Linked DNA regions of Homo sapiens: region 2 is linked to region 1. Evidence: fine-mapped expression QTL. Tissue or cell type: whole blood. Region 1 holds a variant in brackets; the other region holds the start of a gene. All regions are shown on one strand. Distances are between the middles of the regions.

Region 1 (2,500 bases):
ACCCAGGAGGGCAGTGGTTTGGGGTCCGCCACGAGCACAAGGCTCAACCCTGGGATTAGGCAGCTGAGTCTTGGAACCTGAGCCCAGGCTGGACCTGGCAAAGGCGCTCAGTGGTAGGAGTGCCTTGTGTCATCTCATCCCAGGTGGCTCAATAGCTCCCAACAGAGGTGGGTTTGTGACAGACAGCCCTGTGGGTGGGAGCCTCAACTGGGGTGGGAGCACCTGTGAAAACCTGAGGTGGAACAGGAGGCTTTAGGCACCGAAGTTCTTGGGAGGGAGTTGGGGTGTGGGTTCGGCTGAACTTCTTTCTAGATCACTAATTAAAAGGCACATTCATGCTGGGGAATGGATAGTCTGTTTGACCCTGAGTGCCACAGTCAAGTTTTAGGGGACAGGCAAGAGGCAAAGGAACAAAAAGGGAGACGAAGGAAGGAATGAGAAAGGCAGGGGAAAAGAGGAAGGAGGAAGAACTGGTAACAAAGGGTGGGCCACGGAGTGTGGCTAGCAGAGCCTCTGAGGGAGGTGGCCCCCACCAGAACAGAGGCTCCCTCTGCCTGGGGAGGTGCAAAGGGCTGGTAAACAACCTGACTGCTGTTATTTACAACCCCCCAGCCTAGGGGCCTGAGGGGTCAGTCTAAGGAGGCTGAGGCTCCCTCCGCCCTGCCCACCTGGGGAGGGTTGGGGAAGTGGAGAGTTCTGCACAGTAGGTGCAGAGGCTTCTGTCTCCCAGGTATCCTCCCCGAGGTCTGGCAGGATAATGCTGACCGGGAGGCCTTACCTGCCAAGGGGCCAGAGGGTGATTTTGCTCTTGAGAAAACCTGGCCTGCCAGCTAAATCATAGGCCTATTTGTGGCCACTACAGCATATATTTATTTTTCTCCCTAAAAAATGCTCAATACCCCTCCCCATATTTAAAACACCACAATAAAAATACATAGGAAATTCAAGTTTACATAGCATGCCAAGAAAAATAAATTGTCATGACTTAACATTAAACAGCTATGCAAATTTGGATCAACACAAAATCAAGCTAGATCATAATTAGAACTCGATCTGTTCTTTCTTTAAAATACTACAAACTACTATTTAAAAAAAAACACAACAACTTTACATTCAGAAATCAGACAATCTGGAGATAGGCCACTGAATGCGAGAAACCCAAGGCTTTTGCTCTGATGCTAGAGTTGCCCTGGAATCCACACACATAGGACAAAAGGTCCAGGGCTCAAGTTTTAAAATCCTTTTGCTAAGAAAAGACATATGCACAGTGATTGCAGTGGTTGCATACCACTGAAAGAAGGGGGTGGGGGGAGGACGTAACATTAAGAATGGTTGAAATTTTGTGTTTTTCTGTTAAATTACAACTACCAAAAAGATCACACCAATCCAATTTTAGCAGCACTCTCCGAA[T/C]TTTCACGAATAAGAAAACCATAATTTAAAGAAAAATTCTAACCTATTTCACGACAATTTAGCAATTCTATCACCGGGAATGTGTTCCACGGCCACCAAATTTTGGGATGTGTACAGTTCTGACTCTGGGGTGACACTGCGAACACATCAAGAAACCCGCAAAGGCATAAACACCTTGCAGAGCTAAGAATTCACATGCCGAGCCAAGTTGGGGGCAAAATATCCCACTCGTCCTGGTCATCTGGAAAGCCATCTGAATGATGAGCGAAGGGGACCTGTCACTCAGACTGGTAAAAATGAGAGGGACCAGCCCAGCAGATTGGCAGAGACACACAGCAGAGGTCCCTGGCTAATTTCAGGTCTCTTATCCGTGTACCAAAACGCTAGCTCGGTGTCCCGATGTCCACTGTGATTTGGGTATACAATGGGTATCTCTGTACATCCAGCACCTGGTAGGTGAGTGAGTTCAAACCATCAGAGAGCATTGTCTCCTTTGTGTGTGCAATTCGGTCAAACCTACAAGGAAAAGAGCACAAGGAGATTGTCTTAAAACAAAAATCTTAAGAAGAAATCATCACACGTACTTCCTCCTCCCTCTCCACTGTAACCTGACCACCTCAATTTCCCTCTAGGCCCAGAGCCTCGGACCTGCAGCCTACCTCATCCTAAAGGGGGAAGGAGTATGAATAAACAAAGAATGCACCTCTGAGGATTGGGTTCATTTTTCTTGTCTCTTGAGTGGCGGATCATGCGACACCTCCCGACCACAGCATTTGGGCGAGATATAGACATGCCTCTAAAAACTAATCTGCAAAGAGTAAAGGGAAAGTCATTATCACAGAGCTGCCATACACTTGGCCTGAGAGCCCCGGCTGCAAGACTGTTGCTCCATCCACCATCACCCTTGCTGTTCTCACTCAGCCCACAACCCAGCATCATGCCAGAACCCAGCCCAGCATGACCCTGGTTAAAACTCACATTCCGACTCCATGTCCTTTTACAACTGGTTCTGCGGTTTGTGGTGTTGACTACCATGTGCCAGACACTGGGGCCGTGTGCCCCACAGAATATACAGTGTGAATGCTTCAAA
Region 2 (2,628 bases), 55 kb after region 1:
CTTACCCTCATTAATTAAGCCCTTATTTACCATTGTTCACAATATCTTCCAAAACAACCCCTTGAAAGGGTGACCATTTATTATCCCAGAAGAGAAATATGAGGTTCAGAGAGAAGTCACTTGGCCCAAACGATCAGGAGAAAAACCCACTCAGGAGAGTGGCTCTATGGCAAGACACGTGAACCGAGAGGTCAGTCTCCTTCCCCACCGGGAGCCTCACGTCAGTCCCCAAAAGGGAGTGGATTACTCGAGGTCCCTACCAGAGTTCTCAGTGCAAGGCTGCTCGAAGCCCTAAGCAGACCCAAACTCCAAAACTTCCTGAGCCTCGGGCCACAGCAGGGAAGTCTCCAAGGCCTTCTCTGGTTCTGGGGCTAGAGGGGCCTCGGGACTTCCCTGTGCGGTCCCGGCCCCACGCCTCCAACAGGACTCCCCAGGGACCCACCTCGCAAACCTTCTCTCCCATCCAGTCCCAAGCCTCTGTCTGGGATTTAAAACTCTGATCCAGAAGAGGGAGGCTGGCTGTCGTAGAAGAGCCAGCCTGAGGGAATGTCTGGGGGACCCTGTCGGGGAAATCCGGGGGGGTCCCAATCCTCCGACTGGCGCCGACCCGAGTCCTTACCAAGCAGCGGGGACTCCTCAGGGCAGGCGGGCAGCGACAGTGCGGTGGTGTGGGGCACTGGGACCGAGGTCAAGTTGCTAGCGGGGCCAGGGCCAGAATCCACGACTGGGCTGGAGTCGCCACCCGGGCGCGGCTGGGAGGAGGCGCCTAGAGGAGGCGGCGGCCGGGCCCCTCCGGTCCGGAGCTCCCCGGAGGACTGCCCGATGGCGGCGGCACTGTTCGAGCCGCCCTGCAGCGGTGTGGAGACTCCGACCAGTTGGGGCAGGCGGCTCAGGTCGCGGCCAGCCAGGTAGTAAACGAGGGTGACGCCAAGGTGCAGAGCGCAGACGGCCACGAGCAGGCGGCAGGCCCGCTGTAGGGACGCGCCTGGCATCGCGGCGCTGCCGCTCAGGAGCGGCTCCCGAAGCCTCATCTTCCCGCCGCCGCTTTAAGAAGGGTGTGGGCTACAGGAGGGGAGGCGACCCGCCCGCGGGCCGCCCGCCAGGCGCTGCCCCACAGCGGCGACTAGGGGAGGGCCCGGAGCGGGGGCGGGCGAGCGGCTGAGAGCTGAGACTCCTCCAGCCAGCCAGACCTGGGAGCGGCGAGAAGCCGCCCGAGGCGCCGGCGGAGAGGGGAGGGGCGGGGCCCCGGCGAAGGCGGGGGCGGGGCCGGGCGCGGGGTTTTCTGGACGAGGGCGGGAAGGCGGGGCAGCCCGTGGCGGGATGGGCGCGCTGGGCGGGGCCTCGGGAGGGTGGGCAGCGGGCGGGGCGCCGTCGTGGGGTCCCCGGAGTATGACTGCAGCTCCGACGCTTGGCCGCGCACCGCCCTCTTCCTCCCGAGCCTTTGCGGCGGAGCTTCGGTCGCGTTGAGCCGCGCCTCCTCTTCCTCCTCCACGCTGCCCTCGACAGGCCGCGCCACTTCCTGGGGTGCGAAGGGACTCGGGTGCGAGCCTGGGCCTGCAGCGCGGCGGCGGAGAGAACGGAGAGGACAGCTGGCGGGTGGTTATCTGGAGTGGTTTGGGGCCGCGGCGGCGTTCTGGCCAGTGGGCCTTGGTGGGCTAGGAAGAGAGGCAGAAAAAGGTTACCCAGGAAACGGGCTTCGACGCCGGGCGAGGAGTGGCACGTTCGAAACCCCCTCCCTAACTCAGCCCGGCTGGACCCCGCTGCTTAACGGGGGGTCCTGCGGCAAAGAAAGTGGACGGGTTGCCACTTCTGTGCCTCCCCATCAGGTAGCCTGGGCTATAAGGGGCTCTCAGACCAGCTTGGTTCCAGATGTGTGTGTGGCGGGAGTCCTGTATACTTTGAAGAGGAGAGCAGCAAGAAGCCTCTAACTCCCAGGCCAGCGTGCAGGAGATCAGCCGGCGTTACAGTCTACACTGGGCTACCCACTGTCCCATGAAGTAGCAGTTCTCCCCATGTCGTAGAGTGGGGCCCCGGCAGATTAAGAAACTTTCCTAAGAGCCCACAGCTGGCAAGAGGCAGAATTCTGGCTCCGAAACCCATGTTTTCTACAGGTTTACCCTTTGTTGATTTGCAAGTAAGGGCTGAAGGCTGTGTGGGTGAGAGACTTAGGCACTGAAGCCACTTGACCTCGATTTGACCCAGAGGCCTCAGGCCCTGAGTGAGCAGAGACACCTCACCCCAGAGAAAGACTCATGGAGGTGCTGTCAGTAATGTGGATAGGGAAGTTGAGGGCTCTGGCAGCCAACCATCAGGGAATAACAGTAGCTACCTTATTTTGAGAGTTTGCTGTGTGCCAGTACTATCTGCCATGAAGTAGGTGGTGTTACGGTGTCCATTTCACAGATGAGAAAATAAGGCTTATGAGTTGACACTTTGGTTGTGATCATACAGAATCAACTTTCCTCACTTGACTTCCTGGACACCAGGTCCTTCTGATCTTCCTCACTTCACTGGCCATTTCTGTCTCCTCTCTGGACTTCTTCCCCAGTTGCTGAAGGCCCCAGCCATAGTCCATGATGTTCTTTTGTGTCTACACTTACTGCCTCGGAATGATTTATAATATCCAAA

The links. PIP is the estimated chance that this variant, and not a neighbour inherited with it, causes the effect.
Region 2: B4GALT1 starts here. The variant in region 1 is fine-mapped to the expression of B4GALT1 in whole blood (TOPMed, PIP above 0.99).

Annotation. Positions count from the first base shown.
Region 1 is chr9:33,111,661-33,114,160 of GRCh38, forward strand. It overlaps B4GALT1 (beta-1,4-galactosyltransferase 1), which reads right to left. Exons shown (of 6, transcript NM_001497.4): 5 at 2,114-2,218; 6 at 1-1,926. The coding sequence ends at 1,794. Among named protein-coding and RNA genes, the nearest start is that of MIR12117, 4.2 kb to the left of the region's middle. RefSeq lists an enhancer at 1-530. The variant T/C (reference allele first, on the strand shown) is at 1,411.
Region 2 is chr9:33,166,139-33,168,766 of GRCh38, forward strand. It overlaps B4GALT1 (beta-1,4-galactosyltransferase 1), which reads right to left and starts at 1,198. Exons shown (of 6, transcript NM_001497.4): 1 at 620-1,198. The coding sequence starts at 1,031. It overlaps B4GALT1-AS1 (B4GALT1 antisense RNA 1), which reads left to right and starts at 810. Exons shown (of 3, transcript NR_108110.1): 1 at 810-908. RefSeq lists silencers at 950-1,223, 982-1,381 and enhancers at 1,049-1,614, 1,532-1,631, 1,615-2,179, 1,702-1,781.